4 separate regions of the Homo sapiens genome follow, and all the other regions are linked to region 2. Evidence: fine-mapped expression QTL. A gene starts in region 2. Each other region holds a variant in brackets. All regions are shown on one strand. Distances are from middle to middle. Region 1 has its middle 23 kb from the start of CD200R1L-AS1. Region 2 holds the start of CD200R1 (CD200 receptor 1). Region 3 overlaps CD200R1 (CD200 receptor 1). Region 4 overlaps CD200R1 (CD200 receptor 1).

Region 1 (8,111 bases), 200 kb before region 2:
AGAGAGCACAGATTTTTAACATCTCCCCTCCAGTTGCACTGACATCATCTGTCTGAGAGACTTCTGTCCAAGTTGGATGGAGAAACAGCTCTAAGACACGTGGCTGATTTAGCAGTCTGTGCTATTCTGCACTCTAGAGCCCTAAGCCCTGTGGGGATTATGAAACAAGGGGGAATCAGAATCACCCTAATGGGGAGGAGAGCTTCAACGTGCCTCCCCAGGGGCTTCTGACCTCCACACTCTAGAAGGATGTGGACCTCTAGTTCATTCCCTGTGGGTAAAATCCCTGCCTCTGGGAAGCATTGTCACTGATGGATGATGTCAGCCCAGGACAAAAGGCAGAGAACCACGAAGGGAGGACAGCCCTTCAGTGGCTCAAGGCCCTGGAGAAGCTGGAAGATGATGATGCAACTTGATGGGTCAGGGGCACTGAATGTCCCTTATTCCAGAAAATTATTCTATTGTCAAAGATCTCTCCACAGCCTGGAATACCAGAAATGCCACTATTTAACTCATTCTTTAGAATTAAGCCCACATTTTCTCTGGAAGACCATGCACTATCAACAGTTACCTTGGAGGGCTCTGGGCTCAATGCCTGTTAGTACCAGAGAGTGTAAAAGATCTAAGCAGTAGTCACTGAAGAACTTGGACATCTGATAATTCTTTGGTAGGTGAAGCAGGAGATGTGTGTCTCAGGCTCCCTGGGGATGATGAATATAGCTCCGGGAGAGATGCGGAGGCTCATGTAAGTGTACCATCTAAATCCAGTCTGGCATCCACATCATACTCCGTTTTATGAGAGGCAAGTCAGTAAAATTTTGTTTCCTCTGTGTATGTCTGTCTCATAAGAGTTCATTAAACTTCAAAGGCAGAAGCCATGCAATTCACCCATTGCCTCACCCACTGGTGAGCTGTTTCTTACTTGGTCATCCTCCCCTTCTAAAAGGTAACGCTCTGGCTCCCAATTGTGCTGAAGCTGCTAGGAAGTGAAATTGACACTTGGATATATGAAGGTTTGTAGCCCCCAGGGATGAGAAGCAGAGAAAGAAACTCTGAATCAGGTGATGAGCAAGCAGCTTCCTGCCTAGTGAAGCAACAATCACGTGATGCTGATGGACTCTAGGCTTTCACACTCTGGTCTCAGACCTGTCTGCTAAGTATTCAAATTTTTGGATGCTAGAGAAGATAGTGAAAAAAGATTTATATTGGCATAGCAATAGATCACCAATTTAAAATATTGTTTATTTTTCATTACTTTTTATTCCATGTAATTTTTTCGGTACAGCAATAAGCTGACATCTAGCAACAGATATTTGTTGATGAGTGAGAAGTCAGTGAAGGACAGGGCTCCTCACTTAGTTCTCAGATCTCACTAAGGCTTGAGACCACTCTCACTTTCCCACATGGCCATTGATACCATAAGGTAAATATTGATTAAAATTAAAGAAATGGGCCAGGCGCAGTGGCTCACACCTGTAATCCTAGCACTTTGGGAGGTGAGGGTGGGCGGATCACGAGGTCAGGAGTTCAAGACCAGTCTGGCCAACATGGTGAAGCCCTGCGTCTACTAAAAATACAAAAAAATTAGCTGGGCGTGGTGGTGGTAGTCCCAGCTACTCAGGAGGCTGAGGCAGGATGATTGTTTGAACTGGGGAGGCAGAGGTTGCAGTGAGCCGAGATGGCACCATTGCACTCCAGCCTGGGCAAAAAGAGCAAAACTCTGTCTCAAAAAAAAAAAAATTAAAGAAATGTTGAAATCTGATACAAACATCTCAGCTGGAGGGTGGTTAAGCTACGGTTGAAGCATTAGTCTGATGTGTGGCAGGATGGGAATCCGAGGGGCCTGAAGCCTGGGCCAACAGCTGGCTCAAGAGAGAGAGAGATCAAGGTCCTGTGAAGACCAGGGTTAGAAAGTGGGTCAGCCTAAGAAACAATGATGCTTACAATGAACCCCTTAGAGAAGGCAGGGACTGATGTTGCAAAGGCAAGGATGATTTAAACAAGGAGCATCTGATGGAAGAGTGGAAGAGACAGGTTGAAAGGTGACAGTGGTGCTGGGTTTAGGGACAGGGATCTGGTGTGCAGGCAGTGGGGGGTGCTGAGATGAGTAAAATAACAAGGAATAAAAGAAGTAAAGGCTTGAGATCTGGGTCTAGAAGGAACTCTGTTACAGTTTCCCCTTACCCATGTTTTCTCCCTTTACAGCATATTCCATCCCCATCTCCTCCTCCCACTCCTGCGTACAGGCAGCAGGGCTCAAGCTAGACCCTATGGCATCCAGAGGAGGGCATCTGCTGGGGGTTTGTCTCTCCAATTTGGTGTCAAATTGGTATTAATGAGTGTCCTTTTCTCTACCTTCTGGAACCATGCCCTGCTGGATTCAAGCCTCTGTGGCCCTCCAAGTGAGGCCCCTAAACCCATCCAAAGGTTTTCCCTGCCCCAGAATAGACAGGCCCAAGAAGAGAAGTTTACCCAATCTTGCCCACCTATCTAAGTCCTGGACCCAATCACTCTGGCCTCTAATCTGTCTCTGACTTTGACCCCCAGCTCTAAAAACTGCGCCAGATTCTTCACTCAAAAACATTTATGGACCGTCTACTATGAAACAGGCATGCTCATCCTTCCTGGAGATACAGTTGTGAACAAGACTCTGTCCCTATGGTCATGGAGACTATTGCCTAGTGAGAGACAGAATTCAGTAAAAAGGCAATTTCAGGAAGATGTGATAAATACTGGGATGGGGAAGTGGGAACACTTAGGAGGGCAGGGGGAGGCAGAGTGGGGCAGAAAAGACTTCCTAGAGGAAGTGAGAGCTAAATCCAGATGCAAAGGACCAGTAGAAGTGAACCAAGCAAAGAAGAGGTCTGTGGGTGTGGGCAGGGCAGTGATTTTGGAGGAAGGAATGGCAAGTTCAATAGCTCAAAGGCTAAAGTGTAGGACAGGTTCAAGGATCTGAAGATAATATGGCTGAACCCAGAGGATCATGGAGATGGGGCTGGAAATGTGATGGCTTCCTAGATCGCTGTGTGAAAAAGTGTGTCCACTGAGCATCCAGGCTTGGAAAGAAAAAAAGAGTCATATCTGCCCTGGATTGTACTATAAATTTCTTGAAAATAAAAACTGTGCTTATTCATCTCTGCATCCCCAGTGCCTTGCAAAGTAGGCACAGTAATCTGTCAATAAACTTTCTTTCAAGGGTTCAATTATTGCATGGGCTGGCTAATAGCTTTTCTCTGCCTACAATTCCATATGATGAATCACTGCAATGCCAGTGTTACGGTTGCATAGTAAGTATTAGAGCAAACGCTGGTCTCAGTCAGGTGGTAGTGGTATGTTAAGAATACACAGACTAAAACAAAGATATTCTACATTCTATACACTCAATACATTCCAAGAGGGATTAAAGATATATCAGGATCCCCCCGCCACCACATAGTACTACACGTGGACACGTTTGATTTATATGTCTCTTTTCTTCTTCAGAAGTTCTTTTTCTACCCCAATTTGAAATGTTTTATAAAAATTTTTTGAGGTTATTGCAGTTTTGTAGCAGTAATATGGTAATGACTCACCTATATTTCACAATAAATTACTGTAAAAAGCAACACCCACAAGCTTGCCAATGAATTCCTCAGTTATCCTCTCTATGACCTATGAAAATAGCAATGTTTTCTTTAATCATCAGCATAGAGATTACTGAAGACTTTGTCTACAATTTTAAAAAACATAATTCAGCACTAAAATAATATAACAGAATTGGATTATCTTAGATTTTAATCTCTAAACACAAATTCCAGATTATGTCAAAACATATAAGTATTCCTGAGTTACTATTAGGGTCATAGAAGAAAACATATTTCTAATAGGTTCTAGGAAAGTGATGAAAATGAGGTAGTATTCCATAAATAGAGGAAAATGTAAATTGGGGTAACAGTAAGGCTTTGGATTTAAGTGACAATTGCTCCTGACCTTCTCAAAGAATGATTACCCACAAGCTCAGGCTACCCTGCTTAAAATTCTGCAAGTCAAGCTGGTTTATTCAGGATACAGCAGGTAGGATGTATCTGAGGAATCTCACTCTGAACTTATTGTGGCTACTGGTTAGGATAGGAATAGGGTGAAAGATGAGGCCTGGCTCATTTGGAGTTAATGGTGAAATATAAGAGGAAAGGGATGGAGTTAATGGTGAAATATAAGAGGAAAAGGATGGAAATATATTAAAAGCTGGTGAAATATAAGAGGAAAGGGATGGATATTCAAGCAAAAGGTCAGCAACACTTTGGTCTTTGCAACCAAGCAATTATCTTTATATAGCACCCCCTTCTTGGGAAAAAGAAACTGTGTTCAAAAGATCAAAATTTTAAATCAGAAGAATTACATGGTTAAGCATGAAATTAGTGTGAAGTCAATGATTAGAAATTCTTCAAGTATATTTTTATTTTACAGTAGCATATCTATTTTAAAAGCTATTTAATTCAGAAATGTTTAGATAAGGGATATGTTGATGGAAACTAATCAAACTTTAAAATTGCTGGTGCAAGCAGATTTATTTTCTTAAATCTTGAATGATTTTGCTGTTAACATGTTCTTTTCAGCAGTCCGGAACAAAATAAGTATATAAATTCTAACTTCAAATAACATAATTATTACTCTTTGAAAGCTAGAAAAACTGAATCAAGAAAACTTTCATGGCTTTTCCCTAGAGCCAGGAAAAGTGGAAGGTTCCCTAACTATGAGAAAGGCCAGCCTGACCTTTTCTGTGAGAAATAGAACCATGCAGATAGTAGTCAGATGAGGCTTCAGCTTCCAAGAGCCCTACCCTGAGTGTCCTATTTTAAATTGAGAACACTCCACCCTGAAACTTCCCATCCCAACCACTTTACTCTGTTTTTTTCCATAGCACTTACTTC[C/T]TTCTAATATGCTATTTACTTTTTATTGTCTGTCTCGGTTCACCAGAATGTAAGCTCTACAGAGGTTAAGGATTTTTTTTGCCAGTTTTGTTCGCTGATGTATCTCACCTTCCTAGAACAATGCCTGGTACATAGTAGATACTGAATTTGTCCTTATGTAATCAAAACTGGGAGACAATAGACTAAAGAAGGAAGTTCAGAGTATTAAGGACAAGTGCTAGTGATTCAAACTAAGTTATGAACAAATAGTGAAATATCTAACAGGGAGGGGCCAACAGTTAAAATTCAGTGAGGACCAGGATACCAAGCTGCTCAGAAGCTTTAAAGTCCAAAGTAAGTCAGCAAAGATTGAAAGTCCAGAAGACATTTAATTCTTTGGCAGACACTTTAGCTACCTACTCACTCTCCACTTCCCACTTTTACTCACCATCTGAAACCTTTATTTTGGTTATAATAACATTGTGCACCACTTCAGATGGGGATAAATGGACTAAGCCAATTATGACCATTCTTTTCCCCGTTTCTCAGCTGCTCAGTCCAGGCCAGTGAGAACTAAATAGAAGTCAACTGGGCACATTCTGGAAAATAGAAATTAGTTTTGCTGGTAAATGGAGACATAAATGATTGGCATAGCCTTTCCCTCTTCTTCCTACCTTGCGCATGGACATTAGAGCTGGAGCTGTCCCAGCCACCTCAGGTGCTCAGGGAAAGACCAAGAGAATTCTCTTTATTTAATTCACTGTACAGGTTATTTACCTGCTTGTTCCAAAATTTATTTTGGACCCTTACCTATAAATAAAATTTCCAAACTCCCTTGCCAACTGCCTCCAGCTAGATATGGTCATTGGCAGCACTAGGAGGAAATTGAGGAATAAGAGGAATGGAGAAGCCAGGGGATTTATCTTCCCTTCCTCTGCTTCCAGCAGTATCTCCAGTGTTGACATGGTCTTCTCCATAATCCCAGCCAATGCCAATGGGCCCTTTTCCATGGTCCCAGCTCCCACCAAGCAGCCATCTTACACATGTTACACATCCAGCTCCAGGTGACTCTGACTTCCAAGCTCTGGTACACACTATCTCCTTTCTTTGTCCCTTCAGTCCTGTGGGTGGTAGTGGCTTCCTGCTGTTACTAATCTTTAAGCTGCTAATCTTTAAGAAGCCCTATTTGGCTTCTCAGCTCTTCCAGTCTTTTTGTACCTCGTGCCCTGTATTAAATTATTTCTATTGGACACCTGGCACGAACTGAGCTTTCCTCTCTGGATCCTGATTTATACTACATCGTATTTGGCTTTTTCATTGCTTGACACAAACCACTCTTCAAATGGACTCAAACCTTAAGAAATAATTACAAATTCCTTATCTTGTGGACTGGTAGATTTTGTAAAGTCTATCCCCTTTTACAGGGTACTCATGGCCTCAGTGGGTAAGGAGAGAGTAAAGACAGCAAGTTGGTGTGGTTATATACGTGTGGATACATATACACACACATACATTTACATATATATACATATATAATCACATGGTTATATATGTCTTTACTATCTCCTTACCCACTGTGGTCATGAGCACCCTCTAAAAGCCATGGCTGCTCCCTGCCTGGGAGATTCCAAAATTTGACTCTTCCATGTTATACTTAGAACATATTTTCTTATTTTATCTCTGACTCGCTCCATCCCAATGGCTCTATACCCTGACTCACCCTTTCTGCCAAGCTCCTTAAGATAGATAACATATTTAGATAGCCTATCATCTCACCCCAAGATTTCCCCTCCTCAACTTCTCCCTTGGATATACTCACCTTCAGCCATAAAGCAAATGATGTACTATTCTACAGTTCACCAGTAGTCTCTTGGAACCAAAAACAGCCTGGACCTAAAAGCATCTGGCCTTCTACCCCTGCAAAGAAAGATCCAAACAGTATGTATGTGTGTATGTGTGTGCACATGTATTGCAGGATGAATTTAAAATTTCCTTCTTCTCATGGGTGCAGGACAGGATAGACACTTTGGAGGATAAACAAATTTATTATTTCAACCAATATATATTTAGCTTTTGCTTTGTGCTTATATGCAAGGGATACAGCAATGAACAAAGCAGATAAATCTCTGCCCTCTGGCCTCCTAAAGCTGATTCTGACTCTCCAGAATGGCAAAGAGAGCCATTTACTGCCAGTAGGTCCTGTTATTAAGGTTATTAAGGTCATGTTTCCATAAGAGATAGGGTCAAAGTTTTGGTTTCAAAAGGAATACCCTTTCTCCTTATAAGATTAGATTGTGTTGTCCTCCCAAAAAATGACTGCTCATTCTAGCAACGTGTGGCTTGCTCCCTGGGAAAATCAGCAAGAAATAAACCAGAATGCTAAGTGATAAGTAGACCAAAATAAAGTGATGTCAACAGTTTTACCTTCTCTCATTGGCTGGAATTCAAACCCTCCTCATCTACAGTCAGCAATTTGGGGGCTTAGAACATGATACTGCAAAGTATGGTGCCTTGGCATGCTAAGTACTTTGAACTGAAGGAGATTGGAAGGACCTCAGAAGCAAGGTCTCTCTGACCTTCCCCCGCCCTCTGGTCTTCCACTTCCCTTTCTTCCCTGAAGGGAGTCAGAGAAACCAGAATTCCTCTTCCCCATGGCAGATCATAAAAACTAGAACTCCACTCGCCCAAAGCAAGCTATGAAAACTAGAAAGGTCACTCTCTCTCTTCATCCTGCAAGACCCTCACTCCAGAGGGTCCAGCCCCAGGGAAAGGAATGCTACAGAGAGAGGCCAGAAAGAATCTGAGCAGACAGCCCTTGCTGGGTTTATCCCCTCAGTCTATCAACATTAGATCATACCTTTTTGCCTAGGCACGTTTCTACACAGCTGTGCTTTCTTCATCAAACTTAAGTGTAAAAACGGACACTTTTCCCTGGGTCTTTTGGTCTTCATTTCTGAAAGTTCCCATGTGACATAAGAATTTGTATTATGCTTTTTGCTTGTTAAACTGTCTTTTGCTACAAGAATGTTGGTGGTGACCCTTATGATGGGTAAGGAAAGGCATCACACCTTTCTGCCCTGATGCAATACCTGAGTGGGAGTCTTCATCAGCATTCAGTCCAGGACTGAGGCACCTAAAATGTGAAGGATGTGTGAAGGGAAAATAAATCTAGGGAAACCAAATTCACTAAGCCAAAGTGAAAAGTCAAGCTAGAAATTGCTT
Region 2 (8,111 bases):
GTATCTGTAGGAATTTTCCTCCTACTTGTCCTCCCTTCCTATACTGAATTTAATATCTTCCTCCACAACGAAACTCCCTTCTCAGTCACATATATACCTCAGCGGCATCACAGAACTTTTTTCAAATGAGAACCCCAGGGCAGAAGCTCTTGACTCATGTTTCAAAATAAATATTTTACCTAGTGCCACCGCCACTCAATGGGACACTGTTACCACATTATTCTCCAAAAAATCCTACTTAATTATAAATTTTCCTGTTCACCAAAGAACAGGTGGTTCCTCATTGTCTACTGACTAATACCCAGGTTCTTTAATTTAGCTATTAAGGACCCCCAAAATCCAGCCTTATTTCCTACTATTATTTAACACACAACCTCTGTTCCTGCAAGCTACAGCTCTTTCTCTCTCTGAAGCACCTTGCATTTGCACATGCTACACATCCCATCCTTCCAATTCCTTTCTCTGCATTTCCCCATTTATCCAAACCTGTCATTCAAAGCCTAGCTCAAGACCCATCTCCATAAAATCCTCCACAACTCCAACCCACTGTAATTTCTCCCTCCTTTAGATTTGTACTAGTTTCATATACAATTTCAAGATTTACTGATTTTAAATGTTCACCAATTGTTTCATCTTACCTTTGTCTTTCTAATTTAGATTACTAATAACTTTTAGGCACTATTCTACACACACACACAGACATTAATAAGGACTTTTAATTAATTTATTAATTGCTTAAGCATGAACATTTAGAGAAAAACACACCTATAAATTATTATAACATGTAAATTCACAAATATGCAAACTAGAAAAGGAAGATAGGACTAAAGTTATTAATAAGGACAAAACCCTTCTTTTGCACAATTGTTTTGAATCTTTTTCCACTGTTTGCAAATCTGCCAAAGCTACCTTAGAGCCCTGTCTTGATTTTTATCTCCTCTTCTTGTTACTGCCTGTCCTCTAGTGGAAGACAACAATAAATGAATAAAAATTAGCCCAAAGAAGGAAAGAAGTGAAGGGTTCCTTTTTAGTAACTCATAATCACAAAATCAGTAACTTTTATAAAAGATGGAATAATTTTAATTGGAACACCAAAATATAATTTGAACACACACACAAAAATCTAGAAGACAATAGGGCTAAAAAAAAGGAGGAAGAAGTGGCACAGGGTACGGGGAGTGTCCGGGAAGGGGACCAGGTACAAGGCTGGGAATATAGCTCTGATGTACACAATTTAGGTTGTTTTTATTTTTCCCCTTAGGTTTTTTCTGGATAAATCTTGTTTACTAACTGCCAAGCTGCTTGAAGTTATAAGCAAATAAGTAGACAAAAAGAAAATAGGGAAACCAAATGAATACTATGTTTTACATTTAAGTCATTAGCTCCCTTGTTCCTTTGTGAATTTACCTTGTACAAAGCGAGTTCTTTCTGTTTGGCAGTATTAATAACATAGCAGTTTTAGCAATAAAGACATAAAGTCATATTTCCCCAAGTGGTATGCTTCTCATTATTCTAAATCATGTCATGGTTAACCTATCACACCAAATCACTACATGTAAAGTAATATGCTTTTTTAAATCCTGATTTTAAACATTTAATAACTTTACAATAACATAAGCATAGACTTCATAGATCTGCTATATGTAGTCTTTCCTAGTTGTGTTCAGAAATAGTTTTAAAATTTAAACCTTTCAACCTTTAAAATTGAAAATTACAAATTATGTTTTAATCATTTTTTTTCCTTTTCCCAGGAGTAACAGTGCAATTTGACATAAACAGCTCCTTGCCTATCTGGCTGCCCCAGCCAAGCTGGGTCCTACACAAGTTGCTATAAGAGCTTTCTACAACAAGATCTGAACTACTGAAAGATTCAGATCACTTGACTTTTTAGGTGAGTAACAGTCTATTAAGGCTAAAACTAAGTATTGGCTTGACTTTTTTCACTGATGCTCTTCAGTGAAAAGCACAATGGTTAAATAATGAGGAAAATTGCCCACTCAAATGTTTAGTGGTGCTTACTGATGTATATCATTACTGATTGTGATTCTGGCACATACTAGTCATATCTAACCTTGGCCAAATCATTTCACCTCTCTACGCCTCCATTTCTACCTTTGTAAAATGGAGAGGTGTCTTCCATGTCTACTTCACTGGGTTGCTGTGCAGATCAAAGGGAAAAAAGCATGTGAAAATTCTCAATAGAAAGGTGCAGTCAAAGAGTGTAGTTATTTTGCATGTGTTCACTAGTAAGATTAACATGTGGAAAGAAGATTTTTTGTGGAAGATAAGCAGCATTTTAAAGTCATTCAGAAATGAGGAAAAATACCTTTTCTTCTTTCAATTATCAAATTATAACATTTAAAACCAACTACACTCTTCCCTTGCAGCTGCTCTGTCTACCAAAAGTGAAACCTGAAAACTCCCTCCCACACCAACTCCTACCAACCTTCTACAGTGAAACCAGGACACCCCCACAGTGGCCCAAGTTCTCTATAACTTCTATAGGAACCTAGATGTTGAAGAGTCTGTTCTCTAACTCGTAGTGTCTCTTACAGCCCACACATCTTGAAGATAAATACAGACATACATCACAGACGCACCACTGTAACTGTAGGCATATTATATTTTTGAAGTGCCTAATCATCGAAAGTGACAGAAAGCAATAAACTGTCCTAATCTATGCCACTGGCAATGTGGACCTAAATGAGTTAGCGTTCTTATCTTAAAAAAAAAAATTAAGAGAGAAGAGGCTGGGTGCAGTGGCTCATGCCTGTAATCCCAATGCTTTGGGAGTCTGAGGTGGGAGAATTGCTTGAAGACAGGAGCTCAAGACCAGCATGGACAATATAGCAAGACTCTATCTCTACCAAAAATTTTAAAAATTAGCCAAGCATAGTGGCGCATATCTGTAGTCCTAGACACTCAGGAGGCTGAGTGGGAGGACTGCTTGAGACCTGGAGTTACAGGCTGCAGTGAGCTACGATTGCACCACTGCACTCCAGCCTGGGCAACAGAGCAAGACCCTGTCTCAAAAAAGGGGGTTGGGGAAGAGAATAAGATAAAGAGAACCTAACTGACTTTGATTGCTGCTAGTATGTATTTGATTTATCCTGCCTTGTTCAAAAAACAGGAGGAAATAAGGAAATGGACAGTAAGACAAATTATAGAGATCTGTATATTGTAGTAGGATACAAAGTACAACAAGCAAGACACCGGAAAAAAGGATAATAAAGTAAACTAGATATGGGAGTAACCCATATTTAGCAACCCCCTATATTTATTATTGCAATTGATTTGTATTGCCCCAGAAGAAAGACAAAAAATAAACTCAGGAAGAGCTGAGACCAGGTTTCTCACTGTTCTCCCAAAGAGAATTCAAACTTACCGGCCACTAAGAAGATAGTCAAAATCAACAGTAGCCCTAGGTTAGCAGTTCTCCAAGGGCAGAGCATTTCTGTTTTCTCTTTTTCTGCCCTTCACTCAGTACTTTTCCTCCACACAGGTACAGAAGGAACTGTGCGCATGGTGAGACCCTCTCTGGTCAACTTCTCAGTACAGGATCCTCTTACCCCATCAACAGTGGGGCACTCCCTTCCTTCTAGCCCCTTCCTTCACGTCTATGTGGTTTAGCCTGGTTAGTAACTTGGACGAACAGAAGCTTTTCTCTGGAACTTGACACAGCAATAGATTTCCTGTATGAAGCCCTGAAGCAAAGACGGAGGAAGCAGATTGATTGAATTATCTCTCAGCTCATTGGTTCTCCTCTCACTTCTGCTGTACACAGACAAACTTTACAGTAAGGCATTGAACGTGTCCAAGATAAACAGATTTGTCTAAACTTGCACCAAAAAGTAAAACAGAATATTGATCTACTTTGGCCCATCCTTGTAAATTTCCCAATTATGATGACTTTTAGAGGCTTTCTCCAGGTTGAAGAGCTTTACGGCCTTAGTATTTGAGTCTGGAATACAATATGTTTTCTTGAAAATTATTGTGTGAAATTCCTGTCTATAATGGGAGTCAACACACAACCCTGTAAACATCATATGTGTATTAGTTTCCTATTGCTACTGTAAGAAATTACCACAAACTCAGTGGCTTAACACAACACAACATTTATTATCTTACAGTTCTGGTGATCAGAAGTCTGAAATGGATCTTAGGGGACTAAAATCAAGGTGTTGGAAGGGCTGCACTCCATCTGGAGGCTCGGGCAGAATTTGCTCCCTGCCTTTTCCAGCGATTTGAGAATGCCTGCATTTCTTGGCTTGCAGCTACATCATTCGGACCTCTGGTCCACTGTCACATCTTCTCTGACTGTGACCCTTATGCCTCCCTTTTATAAAGACCTTGTGATTATTTTTGGTCCACCCAAATAATCCAACATGATCTAATTTCAAGATCTTAATTTAATCACATCTGCAAAGTCCTTTTTGCCACACAAGGTAACATTCACAGGTTTCGGTAATTCGGACATAGGTATCTACCTTGTTGGGGGTGAGGGCATTCTGTTTATCAGAACTCAGTACTTATTGCCATTCAGTTTCACCTTTGGAAAATTAGACTGATCATTTTAACCAAATTACAAATAATCACCCATCTCTTAGTTGCCACACATCTGGAATTCAGACTCCCCCTAACCAAAAAAAAAAAACAACAACAACAACAAAAAAACCTCTTCCTTACTGTTGCTAGTTACTATGTTACTATGCTTTTAAGTTATGTCTGAGAGAGGGAAAAATCTTCTATGTGCTGAGAATTTTCTGCCCCAAGGCAAAACTGTACAGGAAGGGGAAGAAAACATTGCAAACAGGAAAAAGATTAAACAGCATGCATTTTTTTTCTCAGTTAGCAGTTTCATCTTCCTTCTTGCCAAACATTATAAATATTTCCCCCCTTCCCCTTCTCAAGCTTTTTTTTCCAGTTAATTAATTTGATGAAGACAGTGAAACCAGATCCTTGAGGGCATGGAACACTTAAGGGTATGAGCTGTGACAATGGGAAGACCAAAACAAAAATGTCTTCTCTTCTGTCTAATGTTTCACCAGGTGTCGGAAAATTAGTGAGAATACATCATTTAAAATACAGATAATATTCTGGTTTTCCACTACATAGAAGTGAAAGTTGGCCGGGAGTAGTGGCTCATGTCTGTAATCTTAGGACACTGGGAGGCCGAGGCGGGCAGATTGCCTGAGCTCAGGAGTTCGAGACCAGCCTGGGCAACATGACAAAACTCCAAACTCCATCTCTACTTAAAAAAAAAAAAAAAAATTAGCCAGGTGTGATGGCACTCATCTGTAGTCCCAGCTACTTGGGAGGCTGAGGCATGAGAATCGCTTGAACCCAGGAGGCAGAGGTTGCAGTGAGCAGAGAGAAGTTAAAGTTAAAATTCACACTCGCTTAGGATACAGATAGACATAGGGTTAAGTCTCTGTTGTGCAATTACTAGTCCAGTGATACTGGGAAAGTTTCTTACTCAAGTCTGTATCTGTTTATATTATATTGACATTAGCTTTTTCTCATGTCATCAAAAATTCTTGGAGATCATTTATTTTAATATCTGCTCAATGACATAGCCAAAACTAAACCACAGAAGGGCTAAATGGCCTGTGGCCTCAAAACAACTTATTGGCACGGCTGGGAATAAAATGTGTTATATTTCGTAGCCCTGTGTTCTTTTCACTCAACTCCTCTACTTTGAAATTTCAGGCAACAACTTTCATAGACACACTCCAATGCACTCACCTGAGGTCAGACCACAATCTGCAATCAGCAGTTTAAGAATCAAGTGATGGGTATCAAAAACCATAAAATTCACTAAATAGATTTGGCAGGATGACAGTTTCTCTCCCTGGTCCCTCATCCTCTCCACCCCCAAATCACATGCCTGTAACCTCTCAACTCCCACCTTCTACCTTTTATGGACCATGAATGTTTAAAACAATAAAGGGACTAAAAGTTTGTTAACATAATCATCCACTAAAGACATGCCATGAAAGTCAGTATAATAAGAGAAAGATGTGTCTGGTAAATACACCTCTCTAAAAAATCTAAAGGCCCCAAATTCTCCCTGGTTGCGGCCCTTGGGCACAGGACCCAGGAAGCAAAGCAAAAGAGTGAAAAAGGATCAAGAAACAGGTGTCATTCAAACCAGAAACCCAAACCTTTTACTCTACCAGTTTTCCAATTCTCCTTCAATAATACCAGTTAAGAATCATAGCATAAGAGAAACAAACAGGACAATGTAATGCCAGTTAATGTTGTAGCCAAAACAAAAAGACAGAGAAACTTTAGTAAATTAGAACTACTTTAGGCCATAATGCCCCCAAACCAGCATGGCTGGTTTACTCAATTTATCAATTGCAATAAACTGAAAATTGATGTAATAACTATAAATGTTGTTGAAGTAAACTTCTTCCAATCAGGTGTATATCTTTCTCTCCAATGTCAGATTCAGACTTAGCCACACTGAAACCATTTAAGATGAAGTGTTGCAGCCTTCCTCTTGGGATTCCTCCCCATTATGTAGAAGATTTGCATGGCTCTTGAATACTTACTGCAAAGATTCTATGGACTTTTATTCCTGACTTCTCGTTCCCGGGACCCTTTGCTCCCCAGTACCATTGCCGACTCATTCACCTCTTATATTTGAGTCTTGACTGCCGAGAACTTCAGCACCTGCCTGCCCTTCCTACCATAGCTGAATTTTCTGGATGTGCATTCTTGCAAAATGGGCCAATAACTACTTGCCTTGTCACTGTTACTTTTGGTGAACTCTCTGGCTTAGATATCTGGCCTGACTTACCCTTCTATACACTTGCATGTGTGCACACACAAACATAACACACACACACACGCTCACACAAATATGCTAGCGAAACACTTAGTCCTAATTCCCTCAATCTACTCTGTCCTACTGCTAGCCAAGTGGTAACATGCCAATTTCACAGAGGTAAAAAGAACAATACCGAATAGTCTAAAGAATTTCAAGGGACTCAAACTCTACAGCACTCCACTCTTGTCTTTACTTCCTCTCTGCTCCCTTGTACAATAACTACAGATCTGAATCTAATGAATTACCACAGAAATGCTATAATTCAACATACAGTTGCATAAAAAGACTGCTTTCCTGGGCATATTCCATTTTCTATTTTCCAATTTACCTCTCTGTAACCTTCATTGACCCATGCTCTCAAGACTCATCTGAAATCCTGTATCTTCCTCCATGGACAATCATTAAATAGACTAAACAGTAACTTAAAAGAGCCTCAAAAAATGCATACTTCTATTTTTATACCTACTATTATATTGATTTTTCTTGAAAATTTTTACTCCTAATATATGGTTGATCTACGTCAATGTATAAAAAGTCTTCTTAAAAAGTTAGAAAAAATATATCATATTGGAATTAATGATTATTTTTTATTATAATTTTACAGATTATACAAAAAGGAAAATTGAGAAATAGATGTTTGAAAATCAAATGTGTGCAGTATCAAAATAAGCAAAATCAGAGTAGAGAAATTAGTAATCACATTTTATATTTAGCTAAATATCAACTGTAAATCTCACTGGTCAGATCCATAGCAAGTATTTGTCAAGCCCTAAGCTTAACACCCTGATCTTGTTCTAAGCAGTTTATAAATATTACCTAATTTAATTATCTCAACAATCCTATATAGTAAATACCACTTACCATTGAGGAAACTCAAAGCAGAGAGGTTATGTAAATTGTCAAAAGCCACACAGCTGATAAGTGATAGAAACAGGATTCAAGCCCAAGAAATCTCACTCCAAAGTCTACTTCTTAAACTATGTGGCTAATTAGTCTCTGCTTTACTATCTACTTTTTTGAAGGTGGTAACTCTGTTTTGTCTCCAATACATCTCCCAGGTTCCTAACCCCTACTGACTCTATTTATGTACTAATTCACTCTTTCTTCCTTACCTGCTCAAAATTGGTCTGTTTTGTTTAAATAAATAAGCAAACCCTGTGCTGTTTCTAATCATCTATTTGCATTAAGATTACTCTCTGCTGCCCCCTGGAGATAATTTGGTGAAATCAATGCTAAGATTTTTGTAAATTTATCTAGCAAATTCAAAAATAGCTTC
Region 3 (8,111 bases), 53 kb before region 2:
AAAAAAAGAGCAACTCCTCCCTAACTCATTTTATGAGGCCAGCATCATCCTGACACCAAAACCTGGCAGAGACACAACAAAAATGAAAATTCCAGGCCAATATCCCTGATTAACATCGGTGCTAAAAATCCTCAATAAAATACTGGCAAACTGAATCCAGCAGCAGCACATCAAAAAGCTTATCCACCACGATCAAGTCAGCTTCATCCCTGGGATGCAAGGTTGGTTCAACATAAGCAAATCAATAAACGTAATCCATCACATAAACAGAACCAATGACAAAAACCACATGATTATCTCAATAGATGCAGAAAAGGCCTTTGATAAAATTCAATACCCCTTCATGCTAAAAACTCTCAATAAACTAGGTATTAATGGAACGTATCTCAAAATAATAAAAGCTATTTATGACAAACCCACAGCCAATATCATACTGAATGGGAAAAAGCTGGGAGCATTCCCTTTGAAAACCAGCACAAGACAAGGATGCCCTCTCTCATCACTCCTATTCAACATAGTATTGGAAGTTCGGGCCAGGACAATCAGGCAAGAGAAAGAAATAAACCGTATTCAAATAGGAAGAGAGGAAGTCTAATTGTCTCCATTTGCAGATGACATGATTGTCTATTTAGAAAACTCCCATCGTCCCAGCCGAAAATCTCCTTAAGCTGATAAGCAACTTCAGCAAAGTCTTAGGATACAAAATCAATGTGCAAAAATCACAAGCATTCCTATACATCAATAATAGACAAACACAGAGCCAAATCATGAGTGAACTCCTATTCACAATTGCTACAAAGAGAATAAAATACCTAGGAATACAACTTACAAGGGATGTGAAGGACCTCTTCAAGGAGAACTATAAACGACTGCTCAAGGAAATAAGAGAGGACACAAACATATGGAAAAAGATTCCACGCTCATGGATAGGAAGAATCAATAGCATGAAAATGGCCATACTGCCCAAAGTAATTTATAGATTCAATGCTATCTCCCTCAGGCTACCATTGACTTTCTTCACAGAATTGGAAAAAAGCTACTTTAAATTTCATATGGAACCAAAAAAGAGCCCATACAACGAAGACAATCCTAAGCAAAAAGAACAAAGCTGGAGTCATCACGCTACCTGAATTCAAACTATACTATAAGGCTACAGTAACCAAAACAGCATGGTACTGGTACTAAAACAGATATATAGACCAATGGAACAGAACAGAGGCCTCAGAAATAATGCCTCACATCTACAACCATCTGATTTTTGACAAACCTGACAAAAACAAGCAATGGGGAAAGGATTCCCTATTTAATAAATGGTGCTAGGAAAACTGGCCAGCCATATGCAGAAAACTGAAACGGGACCCCTTTCCTACACCTTATACAAAAATTAACTCAAGATGGATTAAAGACTTAAACCTAAGACCTAAAACCATAAAACCCTAGAAGAAAACCTACACAATAACATTCAGGACATAGGCATGGGCAAAGACTTCATGACTAGAATACCAAAAACAAGGGCAACAAAAGCCAAAATTGACAAATGGGATCTAATTCAACTAAAGAACTTCTGCACAGCAAAAGAAACTATCATAAGGGTGAACAGGCAACCTACAGAATGGGAGAAAATTTTTGCAATCTACTCATCTGACAAAGGGCTAATATCCAGAATCTACAAGGAACTTAAACAAATTTACAAGAAAAAAAAAACCCATCGAAAAGTGGGCAAAGGATATGAACAGATGCTTCTCAAAAGAAGACATTTATGCTGCCAACAAACATATGAAAAAAAGCTCATCGTCACTCGTCATCAGAAAAATGCAAATCAAAACCACAATGAGATACCATCTCACGCCAGTTAGAATGGCGATCATTAAAGTCAGGAAACAACAGGTGCTGGAGAGGATGTGGAGAAATAGGAATGCTTTTACACTGTTGGTGGGAGTGTAAATTAGTTCAACCATTGTGGAAGACAGTGTGGCAATTCCTCAAGGATCTAGAACTACAAATACCATTTGACCCAGCAATCCCATTACTGGGTATACACCCAAAGGATTATAAATCATTCTACTTTAAAGACACATGCGCTCGTATGTTTATTGCAGCACTGTTCACAATAGCAAAGACTTGGAACCAACTCAAGTGCCTATCAATGATAGACTGGATAAAGAAAATGTAGCACATATACACCATGGAATACTATGCAGCCATAAAAAATGAGTTCATGTCCTTTGCAGGGACATGGATGAAGCTGGAAACCATCATTCTCAGCAAACTAACACAGGAACAGAAAACCAAACACCGCATGTTCTCACTCATAAGTAGGAGTTGAACAATGAGAACATATGGGCACAGGGAGGGGAACATCACACACTGGGGCCTTTTGGTGGGTGGGGAGCTAGGGGAGGGAGAGCATTAGGAGAAACACCTAATGTAGATGATGGGTTGATGGGTGCAGCAAACCACCATGGCACGTGTATACCTATGTAACAAACCTGCACCTTCTCCACATGTATCCCAGGACTTAATATACCTAATGCTAGATGACGAGTTAGTGGGTGCAGCGCACCAGCATGGCACATGTATACATATGTAACTAACCTGCACAATGTGCACATGTACCCTAAAACTTAAAGTATAATTAAAAAAAAAAAAATAAATAAATAAATAAAATAAAGTATAATAATAATAAATGAAACTAATCTGAAATTAAAAGTTTACTTTAAAAAAAATTAAAAAAAGAAAAGAAACAAAGATTGGCAAGTTCTTTAAAAGTGAAACATCTACATATCATCTGATCTAGCCAATCCACTCATCAGTATTTGCTCAGGAAAAATAAAAATATATGTCAACAAAAATACTTGCAAAATAATGTGTATAGCAGCTTTATTTCTAATAACCCAAAACTGGAAACAACACAAATGTCCACCAACAGGCAAACAGATAAACAAACTGGTATAGCTATAAAATTAAATACTATTTGGAATAAAAAGAATGCAGTATCATTGTGTGGATGTGGATGTATCTCAAAATAATTATAATGAGAAAAAAAGTCCAACCAAAAAAATAAAAGAGTGTCTATTGTGATGATATTTACATGATTTTATTTATGGAAAATTCTAAAAAATGCTAACTAATACATAGTTACAGAAAGCAGATCAGAGGTTGCCTGGGGAGCGGGGGATGAGGAGGAACAAGAAGTTTGTAGGGATAGGCTCACAAAGAAACAAGAAAATTTTGGGGGGTGATGGACAAGTTTATTATCTTGATTATGCTGATGGTTTCACAGATGTAAAACTATGTCAACATTTACCAAAGTCCACATTTTAAATATGTGCAAAATTTAACAAACTGTACACTTAAATATATCAATTATATCTCAGTAAAGCCGTTTTCAGAAGTTTGTAAGTGAAGCATAACCCCAATAGATATTTAGTTATGATGAATTACTTTCAAATTATTAGAGATATTGAAAGAGAGAGAGA[CAG/C]AGAAAGAGAGAGAAAATTGACAAATCTAGCAAAGCAAAGGAAAAGATACAAAATGGGATGGGGAGAAAGCACAGTAAATGAGACATATAAAATGTTATTTGTAAAATGTAATCGACTATGTAAGTAATCACACCTAACTCCGTCTCAGCCTCTGCTTCCTGGATGACCTTGCTGACACGCCAGGTCTAATCTCTAGATTCTCTAATTTGACAGGTCTAGCGTGGATTTGGAGAATATATATAATTTTTTATATCATTCTAATGTTCAACCATGTTCCAGCCCCATAGTAGAGATTTTCATACAATTATTTTCTGTACAATATAATTTAACTTCTATAAATTATCTTGAAGTCTTTTCTATGATGTCATTTAACATGCCTGTTTTGACATTATCAAGTTAAGAGGTAAGCATAGTACTGTCTTACTTTGTTTTTCAGTAATATTTAAACAGATAGTCTTGAACCTAACTATGAGCCTCAGCTCAACCAGGGTTGGATGAAGAATTAATAAATTTCAAGGACAGTGTAATGATGTCTATTGTGAACATTGCTTGGTAATATTTATATGCAGAAACCTAATGGACACTGCTTTTTGGTCAAGTCAAAATGGCTTGATCAAAATATCATGTGCCAAGTGTCATTAGATTAGCTTTACATCCAAAATAGACTAAAAGTCCCTTTGAGGACAAAATCCATAGTAACTGAAATGTCTAGAGGGAGAAAAATATACTTATAAGACAAAATAGCTGTCTTAAAAATCTCAGATGGTATGATTGAAGAATGAATATATTTTGTTTCAATTTCTATCATGATGAAAAAACTTCTCATGTTTTTTCTGCTATGGAGCAAATAGACTTATGTTTTTAATTAAAAATAATTTCATGATATTAACAATGATTTACATAAACATTGCCAATATTTTGCTCCACAAAAATATGGAGGGGAGGGTCATGCCATCCCATGGCCACTTGCTTATTATGTAGCTCATAGTTTGTAAATAAATACCCCATGTCCTCTATGGTGCATTTTTCGCCACTTATATGGTCAATAGACATTAATTATTCAATAAATATATCACAATAGAATGTACACCATAAAAATACACAATTCCAATGTAGCACATCTGCAAAACTGTTAGGCATCAAGTATCAACACCTCTGTGGAGATATAATGAGTTCAGAAGAAGCTAATGTTCTCACACGTGCATTCACTCTCTTACAAACATGACCAAAAATATAAATCCATTTTTATTAAATAGTATAATTCTTATTATAATCTCACATCATATTTAATCTGGTTGATTAAAAAGAGAAAGTGGCAACTGTAGAAGCAGGAATAGTACAGTTATTAAAATAGAAATTTAGGGAAAGGCACATTTAAACAATGTTGGAGGGAATTTGACATATATATTTGACACAATTTAACATATATATCAATAGTAAAATGCACAAACCCTTTGACCTGACAATTCCACTCAAGAAAGTTATCCTACAGATATACTCAAAAACAAAGAGATATATGCACAAGAAACATTCTATGTGGTATTGTTTATACCACAAACAAAACTTAAAAGAAATAAACAAAACTTAAAAGAATCTAAATATCCATCATTAGGGTTGTTTTTAATTAAATAATGATATAACTATACAATGGAATTTTATATAACCATTAAAAAGAATGAGGTAGCTCTACTTGTCATGATATAAAATGATCTCTAAGACTTATATTATTAGGTTTTCATATGTATAGAACAGTAATGCAGTGTATTGTTCCCACTGGTGCCTTGACAAAGATATGTGCATGTATATGTAAGGGGACACATAAATTGACACATATACCATAGGCATATACACATGTCATATGTACATTAAAATATTCTGAAAGGATACACAAGAAACTGTTCACACTTGCTCCTTCTTCAGTTATTTCTTGAGGAAATTTGGTTTTCATTATTTACTGTCCTGCACAATTTGAATATTTGGTCATGGGCATGTATTTTCTTTGTAATAACATCAGTTCTTCAGAGAACTAGCTGGTAGCAGCTAAGAATCAAAAATTCCAATTATACAAGGGTATGAATGAGAATCCATTAAAATGTCTTCTAAGAACCTTGGAAAACCTAATTTCAATATAAGTCTTCATTCTAGAACTGTAAGAAAATCAGACAGTAATTATAATGTATCTCGTTTGTTGTTGTTTCTTGGTACTAGAGTCCAACAACTTATAAAGTATGGAGGTCTGTGTCAACTTCACTTTGTAATGCCTCAGATGCCTTCACCTTGTTTGTAGTATCATAGAGAGGATTGTTCTTCTCTGTGTAGCTGGCATAGGGCTGCATTTCATCCTAAGAAAGAACTCAAAGTTAAAATCAATTCAAAAAATCATCATAGAGACTATCTGTATTTTTGTAACAGTTGCCCATAGCTTTAGTATTTCTAACAGGTGCTCAAGAGTGCTTATAATTGTGTTTCTGGGCCTATATAAACATAAGAGCAGGATTTGTTCTAACATTTTATCAAAAAGTATTTGTTAACTACATAAGTCTCTGTGTGGAGATAATGGCTCTGTGCAAGTAGGAATGGAGATGAATGAAGTGATATGAGTACTCCAAAGGAGAGCTTTGGAGACTTAGTAAGCTACTTATAATAAGAGATGAAGGAGCAGGATATGTTTTAAGTTTGTGTAAGAGAAAAATAATGATAGTATTGAAAAGGAAAAGTCAGGAATTAGAGATGCTTTCAAATTGGTGACAAGAAACACCAATTCATTTCCTCAAAAGATTACAGTCTAAAGGAGCCAAACATCATATGTGTTAGGATATAGTTCATGAAGTGAAAATGTGGTTCAGAGTGATGATGTATAAATAGTATTTGATAGATAATTAACAAAGTAATCACACATATAAGCACTGCAAGTCAGAACTGTTTTAGTTTTTCAACTGAAACACTAATATTGATACAAACTACAAATTATGTTGCTAGATTTTCAGACTATTGGCTTAAGTTTGCAATTAGTCTTTTTTATCTTATCTTACCTCCTCAACAACTGGAGTAGATTCTGTTTTATTCAATTTATATTTTCTATAAAAATAAAATAAATTGAAGTGAATGGAGGAAACATCATTGTTTAGATCGAAAATGGGAAAATAAGACAGTATACTATTGACAATTGTGTTTAATTTTGATAGAAGCCATAATAAATCAGAAAGAAACTACTAGAAATAAGTGAAGAATACTGCTCGTGGTTAATATCCCCAACTAAGAATATTCCGGATTTTGAAAAAGTGAAATTATGCAATAGAAGCTTGATGCAATTGAATGCATGTAACATCTCCTCTTTGGTGCATGAAGGAATTGTAATTATTTACCCAAATGTGAAAATTAACATGCACTTTCTCTCCCAAGATCCTACCCTAAATGGCCTAATTTTCCATGCTTCTATGCCAAAGCAACCTAGCAAAGTCTCTCTCATCATTCAAAGTAGTCCAAGTCTATCTAACACCTTCAAGATTTGATTATGGGAGATTTGATGTTAACATCCTAATATACCCAATACGGTCAGTTCCATATTTCTGACTCTTTTCTAGCCTAATAAAGCTGAAGAAGAAAAAAACATTCATTAGTCAATACCTGCAGCCATTGACTTTCAACAACCAAATGAATCCCACGATGGTCAAAATAATAATAGTAAGGATGATATATGGAATATATAATTTTGCTGATTTTTTGGCACCTGGAACTATAGACACAAAAATATATGGTTCAAATGTGGTACAATCCAAATAATGTACTATCTTATTATTCAATGTTAAAAAGAAATGAGCTATCAAACCATAAAAAGACATAGAGGAATTTCAAATGTATGTTACTAAGTGAAACATGCCAATCTGGAAATGTTACATATTGTATGATTCCAATTGTAAGACATTACGGAAAAGATAAAACTAGGGGAATAGTCAATAAATTATTGATTATCTGGTGGTGAGGAAGGAGGGAGGAATAGAAAGAGCAAGGAGGATTGTGTAGGACAATAAAACTGTTCCATATAATACTGTACTGGTGGATACATGTCATTACACATTTGTCCAAACCCATGGAATGTACAACACCAAGAATGAACTCTAATGTAAAGTATGGACTTTGGGTGGTAATGTTGTATCAATGGAGGTTCAACAGTTCTAATAAATGTAACACTCTGGTGCAGGTGTAGGTGGGAGAGGTTGGACATGGGCGAAGGCAGGGCTTATATGGGAAATTTCTGTACTTTCCACTCAATTTTGCGGTGAACCTAAAACTGCTCTAAAAATTAATGTCTACTAAAAATAAAGTTATCTATATTTATATCCATATCTATCTATATAGATCATTCAATAATGTCTCACAATACATGAAATTCATATCTGTAGTTTCATTTTCAACACTTCTGCCCCATTAATAGTTTGAGAATTATTAAAATAAAACTGCTTTTTCAATACAGACTCCAGAGTTTTCAGCAAGACATCACCTTATATCAGGGTTTTGTTGCTTTAAAGATTCATTGGTGGTGAATTCCTACCACTCTGTTATAGCAGAGTGTTTCTCCCCTCCAACTAAATGGGCAATTGTAAGGAAGATACTTGGAAAAGTAACCCT
Region 4 (8,111 bases), 39 kb before region 2:
CATGTCCCCAGGCCTCCCCAGCAGCCCCATGCCCTCACTCAAGGCCTGAGAAATAGCCCTGTGAGCCCTCCATGTGGCAGATACACCCCCATGACTAATCAGCAGCCCACACCAACACTCAGGATCTGGGAAACTGTCAAGGGTGTCGCTCCCAGAGGACACATCCCCAGACCTACATATCAGTTCCATACCCACAACTGGGGCCTGAGAAACAGCAGGGCAGATCCACTCCCAGTGGACATCCCCCCCAGGCCAGCCCAGCAGTCACATCCACGGCTGAGAAACAGCCCCACAAGCTCACTGTTGGCAAATATAACCCCAGGCCTACCAAGTGGCCCCGTGCCTGTAACCAGAGCCTAAGAAACAACCCAGTGGATCCACCACTAGTGGAAACTCAGCCAGGCCAGCTGAGTGTCTGCATGATTATGTCCTGGGCCTGAGAAACAGCCAGCGGGCCCCTACTGTGAACAACCCTAGACTGACAGATTGTGCATTCACCCCCAGGAACTGAGAAACAGCACAGCAGGCATGCCCCTGGTGGACATACCTACAGACCAGCTGAGCAGGTGGGGACCTGTACCCAGGGCCTAAGAAATAATCTGGTGGGCCCACTCTCAGCAGACATGCCCCCAGACTGGCCGAGTGGCTGCCCACCCACTCCAGAACCTAAGAAACAGCCCAGTGGGTCCACCCCTAGCAGACATGCCCTGAGGATAGCCAAACAACCATGTGCTTGTGCCCAGGGCCAGAGTAAGAGCCCCATAGTCCCAAACCCAGCAAGCCAGATGCCAAGTTGAGTAACCCACCATGTGCACACAAGCACCCATAACCTGAAAAGCAGGCTGGCAAACCAACTCCCAGCAAAGCTGTGCCACTGCTGCCACAAACTCACCACCTAGGTCATAGGGACACTTGCAAACATCACTAGAATGGATTACATATAAATAAGCTTTTTCTTAAGAAGCCTACACCATAAAATTAGAAGAGGCGACAATTGCACCAGATATGTAGGTATCAACATAGAAACACATCAAACATGAAAAAGCAAGAAAATATGATAGACCCCCCAAATCAACCCAGTAATTCTCCAGTAACATAACCAATTATAAGGCAATATATGAAATGCCAGAAGAAGAATTCAAAATAATAATCTTAAGGAAACTCAATGAGATAAAAGAGAATACAGATAAACAATTCAATAAAATCAGGAAAACAATTTGTGATTTAAATGAAAAATTCAACAAAAAGATAGCTATCATAAAAAAAGAGATTTTAGAGCTGAAGAAGTCAATGAATGAAATAAAAAATACGATTTTTCAACAACAGCATAGAAAACGTAGAGGAAAGGATTTCTGAACTTGAAGACAAGTCTTTTGAAATAATACATGAGGATTTTAAAAACAAAAAGAAAAAGAATTTTAAAAAAATAAAGTTTACAGGATTTAGGAGACATCAGTAAGCAAAAAACATTCACATTATAAAAATTCTGGAAGGAGAAAAGAAAGAAAAAGGCACAGAAAACATATTTAATAAAATAATAGCAGAAAACTTTCCAAGTTTTGGGAGAGAGAGAGAGATTCAGATCCAAGAAGTTCAAAATTTCCCAAATAGATTTAACCCAAATACATCCTCTCTAAGGAATGTTATAGTCAAATTATCAAAAGGCAAAGACAAAGGAAGAATGATAAAAACACGCAAGAGAAAAGCATCAAGCCAAATATAAGGGAATCCCCCTTATACTGATAGCAGATTTCTCATCAGAAACCTTATGGGCCAAGAGAAAATGGAGTGATACATTCAAAGTACTGAAAGAAAATAACTGTCAGTGAATATTATATCCAGAAAAACTATCCTTCAGAAATAAAGGCAAGACTGTCACCAAGCAGAAAAAAAAAATCAATAAAATGACAGATGTAAGTTCTCATCTATCAAATAATCTTGAATGTAAATGGATTCAATTTCCCAATTAAAAGATATAGACTGGCCAAGTGGATTTAAAAATATAAGACCCAGCTGGGCATGGTGGCTCACGCCTGTAATCCTAGCACTTTGGGAGGCCAAGGAGGGTGCATTACCTGAAGTCAAGAGTTTGAGACTAGCCCGGCCAACATGATGAAACCCCATCCCTACTAAAAATACAAAAATTAGCTGGACATGGTGGCGGGCACCTGTAATCCCAGCTACTCAGGAGGCTGAGGCAGGAGAATTGCTTGAACCGGGGAAGCAGAGGTTGCAGTGAACCAAGATCATGCCATTGCACTCCAGCCTGGGTGACAAGAGCGAAACTCCATCTCAAAAAACCAACTATATGCCACCTACAGGAAACTCATCTCACCTGTAAAGACACACATAAACTGAAAGTGGAGTGGAAAAAAGACATGCAAACAGAATCCAAATACAAGCAGGAGTAGCTATACTTACATTAGATAAAACAGACTTTAAGACAAAGGCTATATAAAAAAGAACATTATGTAAAAATAAAGGAATTTATTCAGCAAGACGACATAACAATTGGAAATATATATGGACCCAATGTTGGAGCACCCAGATATATAAAGCTAATATTATTAAAGCTAAAGGGAGAGATAAACCTCAAAGCAATAATAGGTGGGGACTTCAACACCCTACTTTCAGCATTAGGCAGATGATCTAGACAGAAAATCAAGAAACATTGGATCTAAACCACACCATAAATCAAACAGACCTAACAGACCTTTACAGAACATTTTATATAACAGCTGCAAAATACACATTATTTTCACCAGCACATGGAACATTCTCCAGAATTGACAATATGTTAGGTCACAAAACAAGTCTCAAATAATTTTTAAAAATTACAATCATATCATCTTATGTGACCACAATGGAATAAAATTAGAAATCAATAACAAGAGGAACATTTGAAACTATACAAATACATGAAAGTTAAACAGCATGTTCCTGAATGACAAATGAGTAAAGAAAGAAATTAAGAAGTTTAAGAATTTCTTGAAACAAATGAAAATAGAAACACAAAATACCAAAACCTAAGGGATACAGCAAAAGCAGCATTAAGAGGCAAAT[C/A]CATAGCAATAAATCCCTACATCAAAAAAGTAGTAATATTTCAAATTAACATCCTAACAGCACATATTAAGGAAGAAAACCAGGAATAAACTGAACCCAAAATTAGTAGGAGGAATAAAGATCAGAGCAGAACTCAATGAAACTGAACCTAAAAAGAAATGCAAAAAACCAACAACAAAAAAGTTTTGTTTTTTCTGTTTGCAATATTTTAACTTCAGGGGTATATAGGTAGGATGTGCAGGTTTATTAGGTAAATGTATGCCATGGTGATTTGCTGCACAGATCATTCCATCACCGAGGTATTAAGCCCAGCATCCATCAGCTATTCTTTCTGATGCTCTCCCTCCTCCCACTCCCCACCCTCTGACAGGCTCCAGTGTGTGTTTCCACCCTCCATATGTCCATGTGTTCTTATCATTCAGCTCCCACTTATAAGTGAGAAAATGCACTGTTTGGTTTTCTGTTTCTGCATTAGTTTGCTGAGGATAATCTAATCACCTCCACCTGCATCCATGTCCCTGCAAAGGACATGAACTCATCTATACATGGCTGCATAATATTTCATGGTATATATGTACCACATTTTCTTTATTCAGTCTATCACTGATGGGCATTTAGGTTGACTTCATGTCTTTGCTATTGTGAATAGTGCTGCAATGAACATACACGTGCATGTATCCTTAAAATGGAATTATTTATATTCCTTTGGGTATATACCCAGTAATCAGATTGCCGAGTCAAACAGTATTTCTGCCTCTATGTCTTTGATGAATCACCACATTGTCTTCCACAATGGTTGCACTAATTTACACTCCCACCAACAGTGTAAAAGTGTTCCTTTTTCTCCATAACCTCGCTAGCATCTGTTGTTTCTGGACTTTTTAGTAATCACCATTCTGACTGGTGTGAGATAGTATCTCATTGTAGTTTTGATTTGCATTTCTCTAATGATCAGTGATGTTGAGCTTTTTTTCATATGTTTCTTGGTTGCATGTATGTCTTCTTTTGAGAATTATCTATTCATGTTCCTTACCCACTTTTTAATGGGGTTCTTTTTTTCTTATACATTTGTTTAAGTTCCTTGTAGATGCTGGACATTAGGCCTTTGTTAGATGAATAGATTATAAAACTTTTCTCCCATTCTGTAGGTTGTCTGTTTACTCTGTTGATAGTTTCTTTGGCTGTGCAGAAGCTCTTTAGTTTAATCAGATCCCATTTGTCAATTTTTGTTTTTGTTGAAGTTGCTTTTGGCATCTTTGTCATGAAATCATGAAATCTTTGCCTGAGCCTATGTCCTGAATGATATTGTCTTGATTTTCTTCTAGGGTTTTTAGAGTTTGGGGTTTTACGTTTAAGTCTTTAATCCATCTTGAGTTGATTTTTGTACATGATGTAAGGAAGGTGTTTTACTCTGCTCTCATGCTGCTAATAAAGACATACCCAAGACTGGATAATTTATAAAAGAAAGAGGTTTAATTGACTCATAGTTCAGCATGGCTTGGGAGGCCTCAGAAAATTTACAATCACGACAGAAGGGGAAGCAGACATGTCCTTTTTCACATGGCAGCAGCATGGAGAAGTGCCAAGCAAAAGGAGGAAAAGCCCCTTATAAAACCGTCAAATCTCATGAGAATTCACTCACTATCATGAGAACAGCATGAGAGTAACTGCCCCCCATGATTAAATTACCTCCCAGCAGGTCCCTCCCATGACACATGGAGATTATAGAAACTACATTTCAAGATGAGATTTGGGTGGGGACACAGCCAAACCATATCAGAAGGGGTCCACTTTCAATTTTCTTCATATGGCTAGCCAGCTGTCCCAGCACCATTTATTAAATAGGGAATCCTTTCCCCATTGCTTGTTTCTGTCAGGTTTGTCAAAGATAAGATAGTTGTAGGTGTGCGGTGTTATTTCTGGGTTCTCTATTCTGTTCCATTGGTCTATGTGTCTGTTCTCGTACAACTACCATGCTGTTTTGATTACTGTAGCCCTATAGTATAGTTTGAAGTCAGGTAGCATGATGCTTCCAGCTTTGTTCTTTTTGCTGAGAATTGCCTTTGCTATTTGGGTTATGTTTTGGTTCCATATGAATTTTAAAACTGTTTTTTCTAATTCTGTGAACAATGTCAATTGTAGCTTAATGGGAATAGCACTGAATCTATAAACTATTTTGGGCAGTATGGTCATTTTCACAATATTGATTCTTCCTATCCATGAGCATGGACTGTTTTTCCATTTGTTTGTGTCATCTCTGATTTCTTTGAGCAGCAGTTTATAGTTTTTCTTAAAGAGGTCCTTCACTTCCCTTGTTAGTTGTTTTCCTAGGTATTTTATTCTTTTGTGGCAATTGTGAATGGGCGTTCATTTATGATTTGGCTCTTGTCTTGTCTGTTGTTGGTGTATAGGAATACTAGCAATTTTTGCACAATGATTTTGGATCCTGAAACTTTGCAGAAGTTACTTATCAGCTTAAGAAGCTTTTGGGCTGAGATGATGGGGTTTTCTAGATATAGAATCATGTTATCTGCAAACAAAGATAACTTGAGTTCCTCTCCTCCTATTTGAATTTTCTTTGTTTCTTTCTCTTGCATGATTACCCTGGCCACAACTTCCAATACCATGTTAAATAGAAGTGGTGAGAGAGGGCATCCTTGTCTTGTGCCAGTTTTCAAGGGGAATGCTTCTAGTTTTTGCCCATTCAGTATGATATGAGCTGTGGGTTTGTAAAAAGATTAACATAATTGACAAGCCATTAGCTAGATGAATAAAGAAAAAAAGAGAAAAAACCAAATTAATAAAATCAGAAACAAAAAGGAGACATAATAACAGAGACTACATAAATACAAAAGACCATTAGAAACTATTATGAACAACTACACATGAATAAATTCAAAAGATTAGAGAAAACTGAAAAATTCCCGGATACAGACAACCTAACAACTTTAAACCAACAAGAAATGGAAAACCTCAGTCCAATAATGAGTAATGAGATTGAATTAGTAATGAAAAGTCTCCCAACAAAGAAAAGTCCAGGAACAAATGGCTTCACAGCTGAATTCTACCAAACTTTTAAAGAACTAATACCAGTCCTTGATACACAGATGAAATACTTCAAACTATTCCAAAAAATTGAATGTAAAACTCATTTGAATGTCATCGAATGTCAAAACTCATTTGACAAGCCCAGCATGATTGTGATACAAAAACCAGATAAGACACAGCAAAAAAGAAAAGCACAAGCCAATACTACTAATAAACATATATATAAAATACTAGCAAATGAATTCAACAGAACATCAAAAACATCAGGCACCATAATCAAGTGAGATTCACCTCAGATATGCAAGGATGGTTCAACATATGCAAATCGATATTTGTGATACATTGCATCAACAAAATGAAGAACAAAAACTAGGTGATTATTTTAATATCATATGATCAGAAAAAGCATTTTATAAAATTCAACATCCCTTCATCACTAAAAACTTTCAATAAATTAGGTACAGAAGAAAGTACTTCAACACAATAAAGGCCATCTATAGGCCATGTAGCTAATATTATACTAAATGGGGAAAAGCTTTCAGCTTTTAAGAATTAGAAGAAGAATTAGAAGAAAAAGTGCCTACTCTCACCCTTGTTATTCAAGATAGTACTGGAAGTCTGGCCCAGAGAAATTAGGCAAGAAAAATAAATAAGTAAAGTACATCCAATTTAGAAAGGAGGAAGTCAAATTGTCCATGTTTCCAGATAAAATTATCTTATATAGAGAAACCCTAAAGACTGCACCAAAAAACTGTTAACACTGATAAACAAATTCAATAAAGTTGCAGCATACAAAATCAATAGACAAAACTTAGTAGCATTTCTATACACAAACAACAAACCAGATGAAAAGGAAATCATGAAAGCAATCCCATTTACAATAGCTACAAAAATATATAAATGAATGAATAAAATATCTACGAATGAATTTAACCAAGGAGATGAAAGATCTCTGCAAGTAAAGCCATACAACACTGCAGAAAGAAATTTAAGAAGACACAAAAAATAGAAAGACATCCCATATTCATGGACTAGAATAACTAATATTGTTAAAATGCCCATACTACCCAAAGTAGTCTACAGAATAAATGTAATTACTATCAAGATACCAATGAAGTGTCATTTCATTTAACAAAAATAGAAAAAAAATCCTGAAATTTACATGGAACCACAAAAGACCCGAAACAGCCAAAGCCCATACTGAGCAAAAAACAAACAAACCAAAAAAAAAAAAAAAACAAGCTGCGGCATCACACTAACAGACTTCAAAATATACCATAAAGCTGTACTAATCAAAACAGCATGGTACTGGCATAAAAACCGACACATAGAAAAATGGAACAGCATAGAGAACCCAGAAATTAGTCCACATATATACAGTCAACTGCTTTGACAAAGATGTCAAGAACATACATTTGGGAAAGGACACCTTCTTTAATAAATGGCGCTGGGTAAACTGAATATTCATATGCAGAAGAATGAAACTAGACCTCCTGCCTCTCACCCCATACAAAAATCAACTCAAAATTCATTGAAGACCTAAATATAAGACCAGAAACTATAAAACTGCTAGAAGAAAACACCGATGAAATACTTCAGGACATTGATCTGAGAAATAATTTTAAGAATAAGACCTCAATAGCATAGGTAACTAAAGCAAAAATAAACACATGGGATTATATAAAACTAAAAACCTTCTGCACAGCAAAACAATAAACAGAATGAATAAACTTACAGAATGGGATAAAATATTTGTAAAATATTCATCCAACAAAAGAGTAATATCCAGATATACAAGGAATTCAAATATCTCCACAATAACAGAAAAACTAACTTAAAAATGGGTAATTGATACAGATATTTCTGAACAGAAGACATACATATGGTTAACAAATACATGAAAAAGTGCTCAACATCACTAATCATCAAGGAAATGTCAATTAAAATCACAAGGAGATATCATTCACCCCAGTTAGAATGGCTATTATCAAAAAGACACA

What was found. PIP is the estimated chance that this variant, and not a neighbour inherited with it, causes the effect.
Region 1: its variant is fine-mapped to the expression of CD200R1 in nasal epithelium (TOPMed, PIP above 0.99).
Region 3: its variant is fine-mapped to the expression of CD200R1 in lung (TOPMed, PIP 0.94).
Region 4: its variant is fine-mapped to the expression of CD200R1 in whole blood (INTERVAL, PIP 0.98).

What each region holds. Positions count from the first base shown.
Region 1 is chr3:112,775,200-112,783,310 of GRCh38, forward strand. No RefSeq gene overlaps it. Among named protein-coding and RNA genes, the nearest start is that of CD200R1L-AS1, 23 kb to the right of the region's middle. The variant C/T (reference allele first, on the strand shown) is at 4,911.
Region 2 is chr3:112,971,406-112,979,516 of GRCh38, forward strand. CD200R1 (CD200 receptor 1) reads right to left here and starts at 3,698. Exons shown (of 8, transcript NM_138806.4): 1 at 3,386-3,698. The coding sequence starts at 3,452.
Region 3 is chr3:112,917,976-112,926,086 of GRCh38, forward strand. It overlaps CD200R1 (CD200 receptor 1), which reads right to left. Exons shown (of 8, transcript NM_138806.4): 6 at 7,110-7,218; 7 at 6,515-6,560; 8 at 3,230-5,824. The coding sequence ends at 5,702. Among named protein-coding and RNA genes, the nearest start is that of CD200R1, 53 kb to the right of the region's middle. The variant CAG/C (reference allele first, on the strand shown) is at 3,480.
Region 4 is chr3:112,932,537-112,940,647 of GRCh38, forward strand. The region is part of intron 2 of CD200R1 (CD200 receptor 1); the gene reads right to left. Among named protein-coding and RNA genes, the nearest start is that of CD200R1, 39 kb to the right of the region's middle. RefSeq lists an enhancer at 1,102-1,271. The variant C/A (reference allele first, on the strand shown) is at 3,064.